7 linked regions of the Homo sapiens genome follow. The protein of the gene in region 4 purifies or fractionates together with the protein of the main gene of each other region. This does not show direct contact. Each region holds a gene or a part of one and is shown on either strand. Other genes may lie near its edges. The genes, in order: CHML, POF1B, CDSN, RAB9B, SELENBP1, SERPINB5 and VSIG8.

Region 1 (3,500 bases), on a different chromosome or scaffold from region 4:
CATTATTGGTTCCAGGAGCCTCTGGCTGCTTATCATCACCATCAAAGATAATGTCTTCTGGATTTGGAGGTGGAGGGCAGAATTCTTCAGTTGGAAAGATCTCCTGGAAAAGTGTTTCAGCTTGCTTGACAGCATGCTCATTTCCCAGGCCACAGTCAGGCCCAGAGCAGACATAAACATTGGAAGGCAAGCCATTATACGAGCTTCTGCTGATTCCCGAGGAATCTCTCATATTAAAATAAAGAGCCCACAAGAGTCTTGGCTTTGTAAGTTCTTCCTCGTTTATTTCTGTTTCAGTATACGGAGTGAATAATTTCTTCACCACTGATTCTAAGTCTTCTCTTGCTGTTTTAGAAGATGAACATGTCAAATGTACCAGATAGGTGTCCTTCATGCATGTCATGGTTGAAGAACATAATTCTGTGACCCGTACAGCACAAGCTCCTGGCTCTGCTGGAGGAACTATCAGAATGGAAGTCTGCTGATCTAAATCTGTCTTTAGTATAGACTGATCTGTAATGAGTACTGCCCTAGAGATCTGCTTATACTGCACATTTGAGCATGTTTCCTCAGAAAGGTAACTGTCTTCCACAATAAAATATTTAGCATTTATTCTTTGACCAAAGTGATCTATAATTGCTTTACATCGTCCAGATTCTTTGTCGACTACAAAGCATTGTACTTTATGACGAAGACAATAGATTCCACCAAAAACTGCACACATCCTACAGAAACCCTGGGGAATTTCTCCTTGGCCATACAAGGGAAATAAAAAGGGGGTGTTGCCAAACCGTCCGAGACACTGAAGGAAGTTTTTAGTTGCGTTAAGACCATCTATTGTAGTGCAAGATGATTCTGATGTCATTGCAATTGAGTGCAGTACAAAATGTTGAAGGTTGGGAGTTAGTTTTTTAGTTTTTAAGTATTCTGAAAATGAACACTGCCTGAAAGCTTGGTATTCATCAGGATGTTGTTCATACTCTAAACAAAATGTGAGAAATTTCATTAGCATCCTCTTTTCAACCATGGTGAGTTCCTTGCTATTAAAGACATCTGCTCTGGAACAAGGAACTTGTTCTACCTTTCCTTCCCGAAATGCAAGAATCCTAGTGACATTTTTAAATTCTACATAACGACTAACATCTGATTTGATTAAAAGATCAATTAGCAATCCTTGAGAATACAGCAGTTTTGACACCAAATCAATATTAAACCTCCTGCCTTCTTTAACTATTTGAGAGTAAGTAATCCTATTTCTAATTGGTTCATCGGCCTTATCTTCTACTGTAGATTTGCTTTCATCTTTATCTCCATCTTTATCTGAAACTGTGTGCATACAAGTTTTATCTCCACAATACTTTTCCTTCTCCACTGATTCCTCTACATCAGTTACTTCTAGTGAAATCTCTGTATCACTTTTCTGAGTGTGTTTTGCAGGCATTTCGTCGCTATTAAAATACGATAACTGGCTTTCTTCAGGTAATGCAGAATCCAGAACTTCAGTGAAGGTATTAGACACCCCCAAAGAAGGATTTTTCTGCAGAGCACCAATCTCTTCAACGTTGTCCTCCATATCCTGACTGGCGTAGCAAAAAGCTTCTGTGTGTTGAATAGTTTCATCCTTCTTGCGAAGAGTGATGGCTTCTTCTGTTTCATGGATCAGGTCCTGCCATACAACAGTACTTTCTTCCCCAATGTCATTGTTTTGCTGATACTCCTTCAACCAGGATAGCAATCCTGAAAAGCTGAAACTAGCCCAGTTTCCTCCATAGTAGCTTCTTGAATCAATATGCAGAACCCTCTGACCACTTCTTGAACATGCAGCTGCAAGGATGGATTCGGGCAAACCTGTCCCTATTATAACCACATCAAACTCTGTGGGAAGATTGTCCGCCATTTTAGGAAGTAACAGCGTCTGGTGACAACTGCTGATGAAAGAAATGAGGTGTGATTATGCTGTAATAAAATCTGTCCTTCTGATGTTCCAGTTATCCCAGAAGCACTGAAGTTGCAGGTCCTAGCTGTTTAACGGTTACCCTTTTAAAATATTTTTTTTCTTATAAGTCAGTAGCATAAAAACATGAGCAAGTACATCTAATCACATCTGAGAATACTAAAATGGATGTGTGGTTTCATTTCTGCATTTCATCTTAGCAGTAAATGTCAAAATGCATCATATATGCATTTGTGACTGGAACTCTTCTCTGAAAGAAGAAAATTCAAGAAAGAATACATTGTAAACAATATAAGAGAAAAATAATTTCATGCAACAATGACAATCCATTGGAGTGTGACATCTTATTTGGACATAAACCTCTACTAAAGCATGTCTTAAATGCTTTCTCACATATTTTCTAATTTCTTGAGAATGGACAATAGAGATATAACAGCCCTCCCAAGAATCAGGCAACATAGTAATAGAGAATGAACATAATGTTCCACAAAAATAAAGAAGAAATAACATAATACAATTCTCTAACTTTAGCTTTTAAGAAAACTATCATGTGAATAAATCTATACACAGCTGTGAGCTTAGACTAAAAGGAACGCATGGCTCCACTGTTTATAGAAACAGATTATAAACTATGTGCATACTGCCATGATTCAAAATATTTCTGTGGCCATTACAGTCTATGTGTGATTCCAGAACAGCTGAATATAAGACCTTTCCATGCCACAACCACCCTTAGGATCTCATGGTAGCAACATGAGACTATTTCTACTCAATTACTAGTCAGATTATTACAAAAGGATTAATTCAGTAAAACAACTGGCCATTTAAAAATATTTAGGCTCATAATAGCCCTGAGGAGGAAAATGTATTAAAAATATTATATGAATGTACACATGCATATAAGTAATAAAGGAAAAAAGTGTGTAAGTGTAAGTAAAAAAGGAAAACTTCTGATTTCATATTAAAATATCTTAACATAAATAATACCTACTTCTAACATTTGAATACAGTGATGTTTGCATTTCGCCACTGTCTCTGCAACCCTGAATCTCTGCATCCCAAGCAAAAGGTCTATCTAAACATCCTCTGCCAAGACTAACACTGTTTGTTCTTATTTTTGAAGGGGAAGTTTAAAAAAAAAAAAATAATAAGGTTCTCCTGTTAACTTTGAGCATAATGCTGGTTACATTCCATGTGCGGAAGACATCTGTGTGATGCCCTGTGTGGCCAGAGGTAGAAAGGCCAAGGTGCTGAAGAGCATACTCACCTGAAAGTCTTTAGGCTAAAGCAACAATACTGCTAAACTTTCTAATATTCATCATTGCACAGTTTTGAGCTCTGGTTTTCACTACTGTTAAACCTACTGAAATATAAATCAGTACAAGCTGTACCTGTCTAGCCCAAGATGACTAATAATCCTGGATACTGGAAAAACAAGCCATTCAATTGGAACTTAGATTAAATTGCATAGGGCACACACCTTTAGTTTAACTAAAATGGCAATCCTAACAGTCCTGTCTAGTCAAAGCCTCTGTCTCAAAAATAT
Region 2 (3,500 bases), about 19 Mb from region 4:
CAACTAGTAACTGAGCAAGAATTTGGGACAGCCATAGGAGTAAAGATCAGGAAGAGGGTAATCCTTAGAGACTACTTACAATTTCCTAGGAATTCTCTCTGCTCAGACATCCAGAGAATTCATCTAGAGTTTTTTCAGTCATTTATTTATTGCACAAACATGTATTAAGGTCTACAACAGCTTTTCTCATTGACATGTTAGTACATTAAATAAATGCATGAACCTAGATTTTTAGTATTTCTACAATTCTGGTCACCCAACAAGACAAATAATTGTGTCCCATATGTACTTTATATCTAAAATAGATAAGATTATCTGTTTTTCTGAGAGGGCTTTCAGCCATTAGAAATACCCAAAGCCACTCAATTCTCATATGAACAAATTTTTCCATCATATTTAATTCTGTCTTGATTATATCTCATAACTCCAATGTGCCAGTAATTGTGCATATGAAAAGCTATCAATGTAGATTAACACCAATAAAAGCATCAGTTTACCTGCTGCTGGTGATTATTTGCTCTCACTGATGCCAAGAGTTCTTCGTACTCTTTTAATTGAGTGTCTTTGAATGATAAATCTTTCTCAAGTCTCATCTTGTCATTTTCCAGTGACTAGAAGCATAAATTATTTATTATGATTCAGAATTGCAAAAACTTAACAGTCACATAATACAAAGACTTGCTTACCTTGGAAGATTTAAATAAGCACTTGTTTCATTTGTACTTGCTTAATAAAGCAGAATTCTTAAAAGTTAAGAAAATACGGGATAGGAAATGATTGAAACTTCTAAAACCTTCATTGAAAGAGACATTTTGATGGACTAACTATACATGAAATGAAGCACAACCCTCTGAAATGTTTTAATGTTTTCCTCCAATCTACAAAGAGTCCTCGTTAATCCCAGCGAGTGGTAAATTTTTAAATTAGAGTCTAAATATGTTCATCATAACCCAGAAACAACAAAACTACTCCAAAGTCCTCAAGGCATTATTCAATGTGTGGAAAGCATTCTGAATGTATCTAGCTGATGGCACCAAGAACACCAATTAAAATAGAAAATGGAAAAAAATTAATTTTTTGGAGAAAAATGTTTTCAAGTTATTATATTTGAATGGAAATTCAGAGTATGCTTTATAATTATGAAAAAGGGGGAATTTACCTCCAATGAGTCAGATTATTTTAACTTTGCAGATGACTCTCTGGCTTTAAGCATTAAATTGCCTTAGTGGTAAACTAAATGATAAGTGCACATCCAACATTCTTTCATTTATACTTTGGATACCTCTTTTCTCCTCTCTCAATGCCAATTAACTGTTTGAAGAAAATAATTTAGCTTTGTCTGAATAAGCATAATATTGTGCTATATTAAATTTTAAAAACATATACTGGACATCTTTATTTCTGTATTAGGAAGCTAGTAACTAGAAAGGCTTTGGAAAAAATCAAAATAAATCTTACTGTCATATCATTTTGAAGATGTCCAAGCTCCTCCCGTATGTTGCTAAATGTGGACAGCACTAGTCGGAGTGACTTATCAGACATACCCCTCATCTGCAGGAAGAAAGGATTAATGGTTTAGTTTTATTAACATTTGAAAATAGGCAATATAAGTGAAAGTTTTTTTTTTCCTACTAGCAAACTTATTAATAATTTTACTTTGATATGGCAAATTAGAAAGGTGATATAAGGCATTTTGTCAATAGTGTGTTTAAGTAATCCAAATAATATTCCTGAAGATAGCATAGCTAGTATTTATAACAAATATTTATTATTTTTTCCATGATAAAGTATCATCTTTGTCACAAAGTAGAATTCTATCAGCAAAATTTAATTTTTACATTATTCTTTATTTAAAAGATTAGAAGAGATGAGACAGTCAATAATCAAATAATAAAATGAATCTCCCTAAGTGTATTGCCAACTGCCTGAATTTTGCCTGAGGTGAGAAGAATATAATTATAATTAAGTTTAACTTTAAAGTATAGAGCTATCTAAATATTTTTGGTTTTTTTTGTTTTGTTTTTGTTTTTTTACCAGAGTCTCACTCTGTCGCCTAGGCTGGAGTGTAGTGGCATGATCTCAGTTCACTGCAATCTCTGCCCCCTGGGTTCAAGCAATTCTTCCACCTCAGCCTCCCAAGTAGCTGGGACTACAGGTATGCACCAACACACCTGGTGAATTTTTGTATTTTGAGTAGAGAACGGATTTCACTGTGTTGGCCAGGCTGGTCTCGAACTCCTGACCTCAAGTGATCCACCAGCCTTGGCCTCCTAAAGTGCTGGGATTACAGGTGTGAGCCACTGCACCTGGCTTATCTCAAATTTTAAAGAGAGGGGAAACTCTTTTACTAGATTATTCTTATTTCTTTAAAGAAAAATGGTTTAAAAAACAGACAACTTCAGCTTCTGGGAAGATGGAGTAAAAATACTTTCCACAACCAATCAGACGTTGTTTAAGGTTTAACTTTGTAACTTCAGCCTCTGATTGGTCACTTTCTGCAACCAATCCGACTGATAACGGGCCACTACTTCATTTACATAGAGTGTACACCAAGTTACCAATGGGAAACCTCTAGAGGACATTTAAACCACATAAAATTATATAACTGTGCACTTGAGCCAATTGCTCAGCCCACTCCCACCCTGTGGAGTGTGCTTTCATTTTCAATAAATCTCTACTTTTGTTGCTTCACAAAAAAAAAAAAGAAAGAAAAAAGAAAAAAAATACTTTTCCCTAGCCTTCCTGTTAATTGCAGCTAAAAACCCTGGACATTATATATAAAACAAATATAAAAAGACCCAAATTGGTGAAAAGAGAAATGATTGGTTAGGAATCTTGGGACCTGAGAAATGACACAGCAGTGAGTTCCTGGATTTTCTTTTTGCTTCATATATTAGATCAGTGTTGGGCAAGCTGGTGATCTAGTTACATCAATGGACAACAAAAGTCCTGAGAAAAGCCTTCTCTCTCTAACCAAAGGACCATGAAAGGGTCAGCCTAGCAGGACAGAAAACTTTTAGATAGTAACCACTCTATCTTAGCCAAACACCACAGAAGAAATTGCAACTCTACTTCCACACGGACCACCAAAGGCCAAGAAGAGAGCTTAGACTGCCCCCTTGTCAGGCTCTAGGGAGGTACACAACACCATTCACTGGGATGGTGTCAGAAAAGACAGAGTGAAGAATGGTGCTTTCATTCCTACTGGCCAAAAATGAAATTCCATGCACTGTGATGTCAGTTGAGACTGTGAAGGGAGCTTGGGCTTTCACCCTATCGCATCAAGAGAAGCTGAGTGGGGGAACCTCAACTTCCACCACCAGCTGGCAGTAATAGGTAGTGCACACACTTTCTCTGATATTTGAATATTTGAATGAGACCCAGAGAGTCACAACATAAAAATGGCCAGGTCTCCCATCCAAGTACTAGCCAGGCTCAATCCTGCTTAGCTTCTGAGATCAAACAAGATCAGACATGTTCAGGGTCAATTGAAAATCACT
Region 3 (2,860 bases), on a different chromosome or scaffold from region 4:
ACTGGGAAGGGTGACTCCAGCGGTTTCAGTAGCTACAGTGGCTCCAGCAGTTCTGGCAGCTCCATTTCCAGTGCCAGAAGCTCTGGTGGTGGCTCCAGTGGTAGCTCCAGCGGATCCAGCATTGCCCAGGGTGGTTCTGCAGGATCTTTTAAGCCAGGAACGGGGTATTCCCAGGTCAGCTACTCCTCCGGATCTGGCTCTAGTCTACAAGGTGCATCCGGTTCCTCCCAGCTGGGGAGCAGCAGCTCTCACTCGGGAAACAGCGGCTCTCACTCGGGAAGCAGCAGCTCTCATTCGAGCAGCAGCAGCAGCTTTCAGTTCAGCAGCAGCAGCTTCCAAGTAGGGAATGGCTCTGCTCTGCCAACCAATGACAACTCTTACCGCGGAATACTAAACCCTTCCCAGCCTGGACAAAGCTCTTCCTCTTCCCAGACCTTTGGGGTATCCAGCAGTGGCCAAAGCGTCAGCTCCAACCAGCGTCCCTGTAGTTCGGACATCCCCGACTCTCCCTGCAGTGGAGGGCCCATCGTCTCGCACTCCGGCCCCTACATCCCCAGCTCCCACTCTGTGTCAGGGGGTCAGAGGCCTGTGGTGGTGGTGGTGGACCAGCACGGTTCTGGTGCCCCTGGAGTGGTTCAAGGTCCCCCCTGTAGCAATGGTGGCCTTCCAGGCAAGCCCTGTCCCCCAATCACCTCTGTAGACAAATCCTATGGTGGCTACGAGGTGGTGGGTGGCTCCTCTGACAGTTATCTGGTTCCAGGCATGACCTACAGTAAGGGTAAAATCTACCCTGTGGGCTACTTCACCAAAGAGAACCCTGTGAAAGGCTCTCCAGGGGTCCCTTCCTTTGCAGCTGGGCCCCCCATCTCTGAGGGCAAATACTTCTCCAGCAACCCCATCATCCCCAGCCAGTCGGCAGCTTCCTCGGCCATTGCATTCCAGCCAGTGGGGACTGGTGGGGTCCAGCTCTGTGGAGGCGGCTCCACGGGCTCCAAGGGACCCTGCTCTCCCTCCAGTTCTCGAGTCCCCAGCAGTTCTAGCATTTCCAGCAGCTCCGGTTTACCCTACCATCCCTGCGGCAGTGCTTCCCAGAGCCCCTGCTCCCCACCAGGCACCGGCTCCTTCAGCAGCAGCTCCAGTTCCCAATCCAGTGGCAAAATCATCCTTCAGCCTTGTGGCAGCAAGTCCAGCTCTTCTGGTCACCCTTGCATGTCTGTCTCCTCCTTGACACTGACTGGGGGCCCCGATGGCTCTCCCCATCCTGATCCCTCCGCTGGTGCCAAGCCCTGTGGCTCCAGCAGTGCTGGAAAGATCCCCTGCCGCTCCATCCGGGATATCCTAGCCCAAGTGAAGCCTCTGGGGCCCCAGCTAGCTGACCCTGAAGTTTTCCTACCCCAAGGAGAGTTACTCAACAGTCCATAAGAAGTCAACTGTTGTGTGTGTGCATGCCTTGGGCACAAACAAGCACATACACTATATCCCATATGGGAGAAGTCCAGTGCCCAGGCATAGGGTTAGCTCAGTTTCCCTCCTTCCCAAAAGAGTGGTTCTGCTTTCTCCACTACCCCAAGGTTGCAGACTCTCTCTTATCACCCCTTCCTCCTTCCTCTTCTCAAAATGGTAGATTCAAAGCTCCTCTCTTGATTCTCTCCTACTGTTTAAATTCCCATTCCACCACAGTGCCCCTCAGCCAGATCACCACCCCTTACAATTCCCTCTACTGTGTGGAAATGGTCCATTGAGTAACACCCCCATCAGCTTCTCAACTGGGAAACCCCTGAAATGCTCTCAGAGCACCTCTGACGCCTGAAGAAGTTATACCTTCCTCTTCCCCTTTACCAAATAAAGCAAAGTCAAACCATCATCTGGAAACAGTGGCCACTTTTCACTGACCTTTCTTCGACATCTAGTCAACCCACCCAATATGCCACTGGGCTCTCGCTCCCAATTCCACCCCACCCTCCATTACAGAGCTCACCACGCCCTCCTAGATCACCGTCCCCAACACACCCATTGCCTCTCAAGGCCCTTATCTCAGCCCCTTCCTGTGGCCACTTCCCTCAGTGCTCAGATGATTCCCTGGGTGAGGGAGACACTGGGGCACCCTCAGAGGTTGAAGCAGGCTCCCTGCTGTCCCTGGATCCTGGACAGATGGCTCAGTAAACTGTGGGGACTAGGTGCAGACTTTTTGCCTTCTTGGAGTCCTGGGTCTCCTCTGAGAGTCTGGGTGGTGCTCTTCCTACGCCTCTAGAGGTCTCTGTGTTCCTCATTTTCCTTCAAAAGCGGGCTGTGTTTCTCTTCTACCTTCCAGCTGCTCCCACAGAGGAGGAAGACAATAAATATTTGTTGAACTGAAAGCAGAGATTGCCTGGCCTCCCAGATCCTTCCGCCATTTCCCTCCTCTCTCATTGCTCCAGGAAATCCATTCTCTTCCCATTCCTCATTCACCGTGGGGTCCCCCTTCCCCTTATTTAGGGCCCTCAGTGTTTCCTCTCCCTCCCCTCCCCTCCCCTCCCCACCCAAACTCCTTTTCTTCCACCATTAGCATTCCTCACCTTCTAGATGCCATCCTCTCTGGGAGTCATGAGTCTCGATTTCCTGGGTTTCTGGGACACCTGGAAGCTTGGGAAGGCTGGGACACAACAACTCCAACCAGATTCCTGTCAGCTGAGTAGGAGGCCAGTTGGGCGTTGTTCCTGGAGCTGGGGGTGGAGAGAGTAAAGGACTGAGAGGATGGGAGCAGGGCAGGGAGTGCAGCCAAGCAGGGTGACTCACTGGCCTAGATCAAGAGGCCCAGCCTGTGGCAGAACAGAGCTGCCGGTGGTCTCTCCATCTTCACACTCCCTGCTCTGCTGGGGTC
Region 4 (3,500 bases):
CTTTAAGAGCAGGGATTTCCCACTCATTTTTGCAGCACCAGAAGGGAAGGAGTTTGTAACCAAGAGAACCTGAAAATAAAAGGAAAAGTAGGAGGGAAAACAGTTAAACCTGAAACTGAAATCAACTTCATAGCAAATTTCTCTGAATTATAAGGCCTTCTCATTCAACTTCTCTGATTTATGCTCATTAATTGATGTAGTACAGCAGAAGAAATAACACTAATTTTGCATAAGGGGAAAAATAGGTCTTGTTTTTCTGAGGTCTTTTGTTGTGCCAGGAAAATGGCTGAGTGCCATGGGTAAATGGACTAGCAGATGGTCCTGTAATTTGGTTCAGTTCTGACCCAATTCTAGGAGAGGAAGCCTAGAACAGGAATGCCACTCAAATGTGTGACAACTTTAGCTTCCGGTTTGGACAGTTCCAAACAATAGACAAATAGTATGAAATTGACTTGGGGTTTGAAGTCTGCTCCTGATGGATACAAAAATTACTGAGAAGAGAAAGCTACATAAACTGGATTCTTGATTCTGTCGGTAGAGGTCTGGGCCAGAATTAGACTGCACCCCAGAATTTGAAAGAGAGAACAAGGTTACGTTTCTTCAGGCATTTACCCCATTATACTTGCATTGATAGGAACACCCTCTCAAGTAAGGATCTTCTATATTTTTTTCTTCATGGAACAATGGCATTTAAGTTGATGACAATTGACTGATATCAATATAACAGCTGTCATGAAGGAAGGAAATCTTGAATAGCTTATTAGTTTTTGGATTCAGGTTTTAATTCCATAATAGCAACATTTGAAAACATACTGCAAAATTTAAAGTGCTAATATTTATACAGTACCCTACTTGTTACCTCCACAACATGTCTACACATGGAACACCTAGAATGTGTCTTAAAATAAAAAGATCAAATGCTTACTGAACAAATACTACCTTTTCCTATATTCTGTTAGGTACTTTCCCACTAGGTCTATTGTGGGAACTCAACGGTGATGAGGTTAATTGGATGATATTTATACAATAGACCCAAAGGGATGAAAACGAATCACTAATCGAAGGAGTGCATGCAAAACAGTTTCTGGAAGCACACACATTTGAATATAATTTTACAAAATTTAGTAGCCCTTAAAATGATTTTGGAATGCCTATGTACTAGCTATATATTTTTCTAAATATTCATTTTTAAGAGATCAAATATTAAAATATCCCAAATCCACAGTGTGCCCCCTTGAAATACCTACCCAGTGGGTTTTTGTCACAATTTAAATATTTTCCTTTTTTTCCTGTTGTTGTTTTATTCTTTCTTTTTAGGGTGCTATAAAACAGAATAGAAAACATTATTTTAAAAAAATCTATAATAAAATAACGTTAAGGCTCTATATAAAAATATATTCAAGTCAGAAAAAAAAAAAGAACCCACAGCAACCTCAAGTAACCTACAGAGGGTGCTTTTCAAAAATAAAAGTTCAAAATGCTACCTATGCTTAACATAAGCAAAATAATTTTATTCCAAGAACTTTAACTTATCCTAATTTGTAATTTATATAATTTTTTACATTTTATATTGTCTCTCAATTGAATTCTCCATTCAAAGTAAAAGCAAATTAAAGAAAGATGATATTCACAATAGATGACATTCAGGAAAAGGAAAGTACAGAGCAATCTAAGATATGCTGAAATCCTAAGTCGGAGATGAAACTTCTTCCTTTTATACCTACCAACGTTCCCATCTCCAAGAAAGTTGTTAGTGCACTCACCAGTCTGTCTCAAGGTTGTCTCTGCAATTGATTCCACATAATTAGAGAGCAGAAAAAAATTGTGTTTGTGGGCTTCCTGTTTACAATAAAGTATATTATCTTGGCTAATTATTTTATTAATTAGTTTAGGTCATTTTTCTTTTCTTTATTTATTTTTTAAATTTGAGACAAGGTCTCATTCTGTCACCCAGGCTGGAGTGCAGTGGTGCAGTCATGGCTCACTGCAGCCTCGACCTCCTGGGCTCAAGTAATCTTCCCACCTCAGCCTTCTGAGTAGCTGGGACTACGGGCATGCACCACCATGCCCGGCTAAGTTTTGTAGTTTTTGTAGAGATGGGGTTTCACCATGTTGCCCAGGTTGGTTTCAAACTCCTGGGTTCAAACGATCTGCCCACCTCATGTTCCCAAAGTGCTGGGTTCACAGGCGTGAGCCGCTGTACCTGGCAGTTCATCTGTCTTAAACACCAGTTTTAATATTTAGCTGGTGTTATTAAATTTAAATATACATTCATCTAATATTATAATTAATTATGGCAAGAATCTTATTTAAGCAGCATCAAGAGTACTGGTTTAAGAAGAAAAACAGTGCCTAGATCTGTGTAGTGTTATTTCTTACTGAGGAAGAACGAAGCTTTAAAAAAAAATCTGCTGCTTAATAATCACATGTTATTTTCTAAATATAGATAAAACTTATAATAAGGATTCATTAGATATCTAAATCAGTAATTATGAATTTAAATAATATCTCCTAAATGGATAGGCTTTATCCTCCTTCTTGGTTTATATACACTCTACAGAATTCTCAAGTTTCCTACAATTCCTAATTTTTGTCCTCTTTTTCCTGCTCCCAAATTGCTGTCTTTGGAATTAGCTCAAGTAACAAACATTTCTTTAAATGGAGATGAAACAAGTGTTAGCACACTTTTTTATTTTTTTATACTGGTCTGTAGGATAATTTTACAGAGCAAAACTCTTGAACTCTCATTTTGAAAAGCAACAGAAGTACAAACTTGGGCATGATTCTGATGGCTAGTATTAAGCGTCCAGGCCACACAAGCTTCCTTGAGTTCCTAGCAAACAGGCGTTCACATCATTAAAAGACTCACTGACCCTATTCTCCCAGTTGCAGATAAACTCAATAGACAGGTCAAGGACTGAGTGAATATGGAAACCAAATGCTCAGCTCCAGGAATAATGATGATGTATTAATAACTGTCTGAGATAATGCTGCAGTTGCTTGTGCATTCCCTATTTGGTTATGTGCACACATAACTTCTGGGCCTATAGGCTCTATGCCAAGGGAAAAAGAGGAAAAGCAATGTGGTTCAGTGTCAAGAGCACTGAGCTAGCTGGCAGTAATCAGGACACCAGGGTCTTCATCACTGTTACACCATTCATTTATTTTATGAACTTGGGCAGGTCATTTAATCTTTCTGTTTCAGTATCTTCTTACATAAAAATAGAGCAGATAATACCTGCCCTACTTAACAGGATTTTGGGGGAGAATGAAAAGCTTATGAAGTTTGCAAAGATTTGTAAGCATTTTTTGAAAAATTTGGTTTGAGATTTTTATTCCTCTGGCTCCTCCACCTCCTTTCATGCACTGGTGGGGGCCTTGTGGCTCAGTATTAACCCTTCTCAGAAAGGGCCTGCTAGTGAAAGTATAAGAATTCTTCCTTTTCTCTTTCTTCCATATTTGAGAATGCCTTGTTCCTCAACAAGCTTGAACATCTGCAT
Region 5 (2,951 bases), on a different chromosome or scaffold from region 4:
CCCATGGTCTGAGAGCCAGCGCCCTACTACTGATTCCACAGCTGGGGGTGGAGGGACTTCAGACCTAGCCCCCACCCTCTGGCACACCCAGCACTTCCCCTACCTTTCCTTCCCACCCTGCCGTCCCTGCTGCCTGCTTTCTACCGTGCAGGACCCAGGGAAGAGATCGTCTACCTGCCCTGCATTTACCGAAACACAGGCACTGAGGCCCCAGATTATCTGGCCACTGTGGATGTTGACCCCAAGTCTCCCCAGTATTGCCAGGTTAGGCGGGGCTTGGGCGCCAGCTACTTTGAGACCATAGCTGCCCTCATCCCTGGCCCTGGGCCCCCCCTTCCCAGCTCCATCCTTCTTGGCCCTCCCTGGGGATGCTTGTGCACGCTCAACCTGGGACAAGGGGAGTGCTGAAATCCAGCCTGTGCCGTGCTTCCAAACCAAAATGAGTCCACAGGGCGCCTCTTCCAAAAGTGGACAGAGGCGTGGCCTGGGGGAGCACCACCTCTCCCCGCATCCTAGGTCATCCACCGGCTGCCCATGCCCAACCTGAAGGACGAGCTGCATCACTCAGGATGGAACACCTGCAGCAGCTGCTTCGGTGATAGCACCAAGTCGCGCACCAAGCTGGTGCTGCCCAGTCTCATCTCCTCTCGCATCTATGTGGTGGACGTGGGCTCTGAGCCCCGGGCCCCAAAGCTGCACAAGGCATGTCCTCTGCCCTTGCCAGCTCAGTAGACCATAAGACACCTGCCACCCCAGGTAGTCTACGGGCAGGAAGCCAGACCTAAACCAGCAGCCTCCAGCTCTTACGCGGCAACTGGCTCGGCAGCAGGGAGGGAGGTTGGACCTCAGAGCAGAGTCTACCCAGGCATTCTGGGTCATCACCCTCCAGCACGGTGACCAGGGCATGGGAGAAGAGGGACAAGGCTTCTTGTTTTACTCTGAGAGAGGGAGGGAGCCATTTATTCCCCCATGCAGTTAGGAGCTCAGGGTTCTCTTAAAAATTCCGGTCTCTCCCAACACTTTGTTTAGTGCACTTTTGGTGCCAGGCATTTACTGTGTTGTCTACTGGTAATACAGAGTTGACACTGGTGTAGGCCAGCCTGGGAGGAGCTTATGGTTTCACAGGGCTGCGTGTGCCTTCAGGACACATGGGGAAAGGTCAGCGCTTTCTGCCTGGGGAGTTATTAGCAATCTCTCTGACTTTCCCTTGCTGCTCTGTAGAAGTTACCAGACTGAATCTTTGTCATATTCCCACAGGGAGAGTTGTGTCCATGTTTTGAAGGAAAAGATGACAGAGTCAGCAGATAGAAGTAGGGGAAGTATGGAGGTTAAGAGCAGGGACTCCCAGTCCTGTATGATTCTGACACCATTCCCCACCCCTTCCAGGTCATTGAGCCCAAGGACATCCATGCCAAGTGCGAACTGGCCTTTCTCCACACCAGCCACTGCCTGGCCAGCGGGGAAGTGATGATCAGCTCCCTGGGAGACGTCAAGGGCAATGGCAAAGGTACCTGCCAGCACTGTGTGCTCATGAAAACTTCCACAGCTGTGAAATGTGGGAAGCATTTTTCTGTGGGAGGAGCAGAATGGAAGGGGAGGGTTGGAATGACTTCCCAAGGAGAACCAGTGAGCTGGATCCCAGCCAGTATTTTAAATGTTAGCAAGTAACTTCAGTTTTGAATATTTCTATTAAGATGAGTCTTCACTGATGAATTCAGTTCAAAGTTATAGTCAAAACAGGCCAGGTGTTGTGCCTCACTCCTCTAATCCCAGCACTTCAAGAGGCCGAGGCCAGCGGATCGCTTGAGCTCAGGAGTTCCAAACCAGCCTGGCCAACATGGTGAAACCCCATCTCTGTGTTGTCTGCTGATAATACAGAGTTGGCACTGGCAACTCTGCACTAAAAATACACAAATTAGCTGGGTGTGGTGGTACAGGCCTATAACCCCCACTTCTCAAGAGGCTGAGGTAGGAGGATCACCCGAGCCCAGGGAGGTCAAGGCTGCAATGAGCTGTGATTGAACCACAGCACTTCAGCTTGGGCGTCAGAGTGAGACCCTCTCTCAAAAAAATGTAGTGAGCAGAATGGAGCTTAGACTCTGGGAGGAATCCCACTCCAAAAGTGGGAGGCTGGACAAGAGAAATACCAGGTGCTGAGTCCCAGAAGATCTCGTGGGAGAAACGTTTCTGCTGTGGTCTGAGAGAGAGATGAAGTAGACAGGAGACAGGGGCACTGGCGTAAAGGCCCCCCTGCCACCTGGCCAAATTTGAATACCTGGATGAGACCCTTTGGATGCCTGAATTTTTTATTTACTTTTTCTTTTCTTTTTTCTTTTTCTTTTCTCTTTTTTTTTTTTTTTTGAGATGGGAGTCTCGTTCTGTTGCCCAGGCTAGAGTGCAGTGGCGCAATCTCAGCTCACTCCAACCTCCGCCTCACTGGTTCAAGAGATTATCCTGCCTCAGCCTCCCGAGTAGCTGGGATTACAGGCATGTGACGCCATGCCTGGGTAATTTTTTATATTTTTAATAGAGACAGAGTTTCACCATGTTGGCCAGGCTGATCCTGAACTCCTGACCTCAAGTGATCCGCCCGCCTCAGCCTCTCAAAGGGCTGGGATTACTGGCATGAGCCACTCTTCCCCCAGCCCTGGATGCCTGAATTTAAGGAACTGGCAAATCCAGCAGTGGAGGTAGAGGCAATGGGCTTACAGCCTCTTAGACATGCCTCGGGGAGAGGGCTGGAGGGTGGGGTTAGTGTCTCTACTGCTTCTACCTGCCACCCTGCTTCCTTCCCTGTTCAGGGGGTTTTGTGCTGCTGGATGGGGAGACGTTCGAGGTGAAGGGGACATGGGAGAGACCTGGGGGTGCTGCACCGTTGGGCTATGACTTCTGGTACCAGCCTCGACACAATGTCATGATCAGCACTGAGTGGGCAGCTCCCAATGTCTTAC
Region 6 (3,500 bases), on a different chromosome or scaffold from region 4:
ACTGGGGAGGGGGACAAAGTCACTGATTTGCCCTCAAAATCATCATAACCCTAATTCTTTTCCAGCAAGGAAGACGACTCACCGGCAATTTTAAGGGAGGGACGAGGAGTCCGACGAGGGAGACGCCTGGGGGAAGCACTGAGCCGGAGAAAGAACCTAGGAGCTTCTTGGACCCCGGGGCTATCAGAGGAACGACCAGCATGGGGAGCTGCGGCACCGAGGACAAGCTGACACTACGGTTTTGTTTGGTTTGGTTTTCTTTTTTTAAGACAGAGTCTCACTCTGTCGCCCAGGCTGGAGTGCAGTGGCGCGATCTCTGCTCACTGCAAGCTCCGCCTCCCGGGTTCACGCCATTCTCCTGTCTCAGCCTCCCGAGTAGCTGGGACTACAGGCGCCCGCCACCACGCCCGGCTAATTTTTTGTATTTTTAGTAGAGACAGGGTTTCACCGTGTTAGCCAGGATGGTCTCGATCTCCTGACCTCGTGATCCGCCCGCCTTGGCCTCCCAAAGTGCTGGGATTACAGGCGTGAGCCACCGCGTCCAGCCGGTTTTTCTTTTACATATGTTGCCTATGTCCCTTTTTCCTTAACAAATTTGTAAAATTTGTCAGCTGAAAGGGGCCTCGGGGATCATGAAGTTATAATCCAGTCCCTCTATTTCCAGACTGAAAAATGGCCTCATGATTGGCCCAAAGTCATACTTTGTTAGAGGCGCAGCTAGGATTCCACTAGGGCCTGTGACAGCTCGTCAGAGAGCAAGACAAAGTAAACTAACACTGAAGCATCAACAGTTTCTACCAAGTGATGAGATGATACAAGAATTGCCCAGAAATCCAAGTTGTTTACAGGCTTGAAGGGAAAGAATTTAGCTTGTGTAGTAAAAATATCCAGAGAATCCTCCAGATGTTTTTTTTATCCTTGGAGCAAACATTTATGAGATGGAAGGCCCTGTTTACTTGGTGATTGATAGCAGAACAATTAAAGGGTACTTGCCATCTGTGAGATCCTTAATTGAGTTGTTGATCTGACCTTTCGTTTCTTCCAATTTATCTTTGAAGTCAACAGTTTCCAATTCCTTTGCATACGGTCTCTTCGTAGAGCTGATGAACTCCTGAAAAACATGCAGTTCATAAAATCAGAGTCTGTAGTCAAGCTATTGCATTGTTATTCTCTTCTAACAAAAGGATTATTAAATATCAACTGCTATATGTACACTTTCAAAATTGGTAACACTATATGAATTGAAACCTCATGTAGAAGTCAGTGAATTTCTTTGTATTGAATGTTTCATTTTTTTCAATTATAAGACAATTTCAATTATTAAATGCATCTATCAATTTAATATCAGCTTTGGGGAAAACACTATGTTAAATATGCCCAATTCTCTTATGGGTTGTAATTTCAGAAACATGAAAATTTTGTATGTCTACAGATACATATATATTAGAATATAGGAAATGTATAGAAAACAGAATTATGAGCAGAAAACTCTTGTCTTTGCTGAACTAAATATCCTGTAGACCCTTGCTACTCAAACTGTGGTCCAAGGTGGTGTACAGCATCACCTGAGACCTTGTTAGAAATAAAGAATCTCAGACCCCACCCCAGACATACTGAATCAGAATGCATTTTAACAAAATTTCCAGGTGTGCCATCTGCAAATTAAGGTTGGAAACACAATGCAGGAGAGAACATAACAGGAGTTCTTATTCTAATGCTTATTTAAAATGTGCAACCCTAAACCCCATTCCCACCTTGACAATCAGAACTACCTGGGTTTAATCAGAACTACCTGGGTTCAATCAGAACTACCTGGGTGTTAAAAGGGCCTGAAGAACTTGCCCTTTTAACACCCAGATAGTTCTTATGCAAGAGATCCTCCACAGAGCACACTTGTTTGGACCTTTAACTAGTAAATTTGCAGATGCTGTGCACCTAGCAGGAGCAATGGAAAGCAGTCTTTTAAAAAATCTTTTGTAATGAGCCGAGATCATGCCGCTGCACCCCAGCCTGGGCAACAGAGAAAGACTCCATCTCCAAGGAAAAAAACAAAACAAAACTTTACAACTCCTAGTCTGGTTAAGATCATTCCAGATGTTGCATGGAAGTTCAGTGAAACTAAATATAACTTGATTCAGTGTCATGTCAGTTCACTTCCAAGCACAGGGCTTCTTGAATTTCTTCAGAGCAGCTTCAGCCTTAGCCAATTAACTTAGCTTCAGTTAATTGCAAATCAACCTTGGGACTCACTGTCACCATTGACTGACAGAACCAATCTCACCTGAAAACATTAGAAAGCCTCAGCCAGATGAAGGAGGGCCTCCATTGTCCTCACTGCCAGCAATAAAAATGTGTTAATTGTCTCTTTAATGATCATTTAGGGAGCTTCTAGAAATGTTGTATGCTCAGGCTTCAACTCACATCTCAGTTTTTTTTTTTAAATTCTTCAGATGATTGTTGGAAGAAAAATGGTTGTGTGTATGTATCTTTAAGCAACAAAAAATATACTCACAATATCTAGTAACCCATGTCCTCAAAAGATCTTAACCACAAAAATACCTACTGCAGAAAGTTGCAAAATCATGGTAAAATATTTAAAAGCTGGTAGTCTAGCTTTTCGATTTGGAAACCTTGAAATTCTGACCATCCAAACAGGAACTAAATCAACTCTGTGTTACTGAAGTACAGAGGGAAACTTCATGTAGTCTAGAATATTGTCTGTGTGTTTCAAATACAGATTTTTAAATATTACAACAATGGGTACCGTAGTGGTGTTTGTATGATTCCTTAGAGCAATGGCTAAACTTATATAACCAGAGCTGCCTGTGGAGATCCCCATCTGACCAGCCCAGCCAACAAAACTAATTTGTGACTGATGAAAATTGTGAATTCATAGTTATTATTTTTCTTACTGATTTTGAGAAACATCAGAAGAATGTGTGCATAAAAAATGAGGTGGAGAGCTTAAAACATTGTCCCAGGCCATATGCCCTGCTCTTTAAGGAGAAAGAAGTTTAAATCATTAGCTGTCTTACACTCTGTAAGACAGCTCATTGTCTATGGAGCTACATTTATTAGAGAGTTAATTACTCTGTTCTCCATTCTCTCAGAGGAAGGTAAAAGAAAGGGTAAGATTTATTTGAGAGAGAAAAGGAAAGCCCATAAGCTTCTCTGTATTTTGAGTTAGAAGATGTGACTGCAATTGATTCCCACTATACTCAACCTCTCCACTAGGATTTATTTATTTAAAGCCTCAAATCACAAGTGAACATCCTAGAAAGGAATTTCACTGAAAAAAAGTTGTAGGTCTAACAGCATGAAAATGCCACTCCTTGTAAAAAGTTAAGTCTTGCTACTTGCTTTAAACAACTTACTGTAGAAAGATTCAGAGATTTGTCTACGTAGAGCCGCTTGATTAGTTTCAGTGAGTAAAAGGAACTAAGTTTGTTTACATCCGATGTTACTGTTTGAAATCCAAAGGGTACATCTTTGACATTTTC
Region 7 (2,921 bases), on a different chromosome or scaffold from region 4:
AGCACCCTAGAACTGTGGCACTTAGTTTTTTAATATAAGAGGTTGTAGTCTTATTTTCACATGTCCTTGTTTCTGTCTCACCGGATGCCTGTGCCTTCTGTGCTCCAAGGACTGGTTTCCTTTTAGCTTTCAGCAACATACAAAGACTCCCTAGACCTTCAGAGCACATTATTCTCAATAGAAAATCTTGACATGTGAAAACTTTGAATATTTAGAAATGGCAAGTGTATTGCACTTTGTCGGTTCCTCAGTTTATTTTACGGTCGTAGATATTCTGAGCTAATTCTTTTTGTCTTTGTTTTCCTTTTATCTGCACTTTGTATGTTGTTCAGAGGAGTTGCCCTGGATGGCCCCTTCCAGCTCTGACTGCCAGGGATCTAAGCAGGAGGGAGGAGAGGGGGCGTGGTCGAGGCGAGCGACAGAAGCAACCCTCCCCGGCCCTGGGCAGGGTTCGCCACCCCGTGCCCAACCTCCGTGGAACGCGGACAGCCACTTCGGACTCACGTCTCAATGTTTCTTTATTGTGCTAACACTGCTGCCTCAGAGCTCAGACCTCACACACAGAACAATTCGTCCAGACAGACCCCCACCCACCCGGCCCCCGGGGCCCTCTGCTTAGGCTGGGGACACCAGGCCTCCGGCCTCAGCCGCTCTAGGACACTCAGCCTCCTCCTCCCTCCCTCTCCCCCAAGCCTTCGGTCCCGGGGGTGCGGAGAAGGCTCAGGATCGCCTTCCTCCGCCCTCGCCCGCCCCTTCCCACTTTTGGGGAGGAGGCTCTGCCTCCCTACGCATTTCCTTAGGGAAATGCCTTCACCCCCAGCCGCCTGGCAGCCTGGGGCGAGCGAGGTCGTCCCCAGCCCCGACGTGTCCCCAGCTGCAGACAGAGAGCCCCGCGCCCTCCTCCTGGCTGGGGCGCAGCCCGGCCCGGCGCGCGCGCTCACACCAAGAGGCCGTTCTTGCACTGCACCGGCCCCTCGGCGCAGTCAGCCGGCTCCGCGCTCTTGACCTTGACGTAGACCGGGGAGGGGCCCGCTTCGCAGGCGGCGGCGGCGGTGCAGGGCGCCAGGGCCACGTCCTCGGGGCCGCCGCAGGGGGGAGGCGCGTACTTGCGGCGCAGGGAGCGGCTGACGTTCTGCGTCGGGTACCCCAGGAGGTGGGTGACGCGGCTGCCGCGCCCGCTGGCCTTGCACCCGGGCGCCACGGCGTCCTCTCTGTGGAAAACAACAGGCGGGCGGGTGAGCGGGCTGCTCCGCAGCGGGGCGTGGGCACGGCCTGGGCAGAGCCGGGGGCTCTTGGCAACCTCTTGTCTCCCGCGCCTCCCTCCACCTGCCCTCGTCTCTCTCCCTCGGCCTCGACCTACTGTCCTTTGTGACCCTTCCTGGGTCGGCGACCCTGCAGCGGTCCCGGAGCCAGCATCCCCATCCTCCAGACAGGGCTTGTCCACGCGTATCTGGAGAGCCCTGCAGGCAGCCCCCTCCAGGCCCCTGCAATCCCTTTCTGATGTTTCGCAGGCCCAGAAGAAGGTGCTTTTCCTCTTCTTCTTTCCTTAGCTAATCCTGACCTTGCTCGAGCAATCTCTCTCTTTCTCACCTCCTGCCCCTCAGTCTTCTCCATCTTTCCCTCCATCCCCGAGGCATTGCAATCATTAGCACTACTAGACTTGTTCTATTTTTATTTCTAGTTTGCTTCTAATATAAGTTATTAGCACTATTCTTATTATTAGCTCTTCTTAAATAATAATGTCAGAGTTCTTACCGGCGCAGTACAGGGGAAACGTGAAAAAACATAGGCCCTGCCCTCCAGGAGCTTACAGTCTAGACAAGACAGACAGGTGCGTAGGCAGGAGGGAAATGGAAGGCAGGGAGCAGAGGTGAAGACTGGGGTGGCAGGGGGAGGGGAAAGCCATGAGTTGGGTGGCAGGTCGACATGCCGCAGTCCCAGCACTCCGTGGCGATGGCGGGCAGGGTTGGGGTGGGGGGCCCAGCCGGCCGGTGGCAGGCAGGAGTGAGGTGGGCAGGGCGCCGGTTCCCTGCCGCACAGCAGCATGCAGCATGCATCAGGTTTTACCTGATCTCACTAGCCAAGTCGCCGCAGGCCCCTCCGCCGACCCCGCCGCCGTTGCCGTAGCCGAAGGCACCGCGGGCGCCGCCAGCCCCGGAGCCCCCGCAGCAGCAGCAGACGAGCCCCCAGATGCCTACGGCCAGGCAGCCCAGCGCGAGCAGAGAGCCCAGGACGATGCCGATGATCACGCCTATACGCCGGGAGTCTGTGGAGAGAAGTGGAGGCAGGTCAGGCTTTCTCACAGCCTGGCAGGTGCCTGAGGGAACAGCACCAGGAGGTGCCAGGTCAGGGGTTAATGGGAAAGAGGGAGAGGGACCCAGGGGGTCTCTTAGCCCTGGAACACCCAGTGGGGAAGATATGGGGAGATGCAAGTTAACCCCTCGTGTCAGCATGCTTCTCCCAGGGCTTCCAGCTGCTCTGGGCTCTAGAGCTCAGAGTGGAAGCTGTGCTGGGCGAGCTTGACCCAGCTCAATAGGGTCAAGATCGTACCCACTGATCTTGGCCCACTTGTAGGAAAGGGGCTGGGAGCCCCCACTGGCAAATGGATGGCAGTGGAAAGGCAGAAGCAGCTGAGGCTCCAAACCAGAGCCCAGCCTCCTCCAGTTCAACCCTCCCAACCACCCAGCCCTCAAGACTGCTGCACCTACCTGAGACCTTCACCTCCACCACACAAACACTGTAGCCCACGTTGTTGGCCACTGTGCACTGATACAGCCCATCATCTGCTCTGGAGATATCCTTCAACACCAGGTCCCCATTGTTCAGGCCTGAAAGTGAAGTGGAGAGAGGCCTGGTCTCTGAGAGCTCCCACCCCAACCTCAGTCCCTGTGGGGTGGGGGATGGGACACCCACTCTAGAAG

What was found.
Region 1: the proteins of RAB9B (region 4) and CHML purify together in Homo sapiens (affinity purification with mass spectrometry; 3 studies listed by BioGRID and IntAct, with this or other methods). This does not show direct contact.
Region 2: the proteins of RAB9B (region 4) and POF1B purify together in Homo sapiens (affinity purification with mass spectrometry; one large-scale study listed by BioGRID and IntAct). This does not show direct contact.
Region 3: the proteins of RAB9B (region 4) and CDSN purify together in Homo sapiens (affinity purification with mass spectrometry; one large-scale study listed by BioGRID and IntAct). This does not show direct contact.
Region 5: the proteins of RAB9B (region 4) and SELENBP1 purify together in Homo sapiens (affinity purification with mass spectrometry; one large-scale study listed by BioGRID and IntAct). This does not show direct contact.
Region 6: the proteins of RAB9B (region 4) and SERPINB5 purify together in Homo sapiens (affinity purification with mass spectrometry, with the first as the bait; one large-scale study listed by BioGRID). This does not show direct contact.
Region 7: the proteins of RAB9B (region 4) and VSIG8 purify together in Homo sapiens (affinity purification with mass spectrometry; one large-scale study listed by BioGRID and IntAct). This does not show direct contact.

What each region holds. Positions count from the first base shown.
Region 1 is NC_000001.11:241,633,870-241,637,369, forward strand, and holds part of CHML (rab proteins geranylgeranyltransferase component A 2), read right to left. Parts: intron 2,326-3,500; exon of another isoform or gene 2,205-2,325; coding exon of another isoform or gene 2,164-2,204; 5' UTR 1,929-2,163; coding exon of another isoform or gene 1,898-1,928; coding exon 1-1,897. UniProt on the Homo sapiens protein: Substrate-binding subunit (component A) of the Rab geranylgeranyltransferase (GGTase) complex. Binds unprenylated Rab proteins and presents the substrate peptide to the catalytic component B.
Region 2 is NC_000023.11:85,306,666-85,310,165, forward strand, and holds part of POF1B (protein POF1B), read right to left. Parts: intron 1,552-3,500; coding exon 1,459-1,551; intron 612-1,458; coding exon 498-611; intron 1-497. UniProt on the Homo sapiens protein: Plays a key role in the organization of epithelial monolayers by regulating the actin cytoskeleton. May be involved in ovary development.
Region 3 is NC_000006.12:31,114,587-31,117,446, reverse strand, and holds the end of CDSN (corneodesmosin precursor), read left to right. Parts: coding exon 1-1,422; 3' UTR 1,423-2,360; downstream 2,361-2,860. UniProt on the Homo sapiens protein: Important for the epidermal barrier integrity.
Region 4 is NC_000023.11:103,825,758-103,829,257, forward strand, and holds part of RAB9B (ras-related protein Rab-9B), read right to left. Parts: intron 1,322-3,500; 5' UTR 1,248-1,321; intron 70-1,247; 5' UTR 28-69; coding exon 1-27. UniProt on the Homo sapiens protein: The small GTPases Rab are key regulators of intracellular membrane trafficking, from the formation of transport vesicles to their fusion with membranes.
Region 5 is NC_000001.11:151,366,755-151,369,705, reverse strand, and holds part of SELENBP1 (methanethiol oxidase), read left to right. Parts: intron 1-151; coding exon 152-264; intron 265-516; coding exon 517-702; intron 703-1,386; coding exon 1,387-1,507; intron 1,508-2,530; exon of another isoform or gene 2,531-2,690; intron 2,691-2,801; coding exon 2,802-2,951. UniProt on the Homo sapiens protein: Catalyzes the oxidation of methanethiol, an organosulfur compound known to be produced in substantial amounts by gut bacteria. Selenium-binding protein which may be involved in the sensing of reactive xenobiotics in the cytoplasm.
Region 6 is NC_000018.10:63,486,958-63,490,457, reverse strand, and holds part of SERPINB5 (serpin B5), read right to left. Parts: coding exon 3,375-3,500; intron 1,112-3,374; coding exon 994-1,111; intron 1-993. UniProt on the Homo sapiens protein: Tumor suppressor. It blocks the growth, invasion, and metastatic properties of mammary tumors.
Region 7 is NC_000001.11:159,853,816-159,856,736, forward strand, and holds the end of VSIG8 (V-set and immunoglobulin domain-containing protein 8 precursor), read right to left. Parts: intron 2,829-2,921; coding exon 2,709-2,828; intron 2,346-2,708; exon of another isoform or gene 2,267-2,345; coding exon 2,068-2,266; exon of another isoform or gene 1,212-2,067; coding exon 938-1,211; 3' UTR 501-937; downstream 1-500.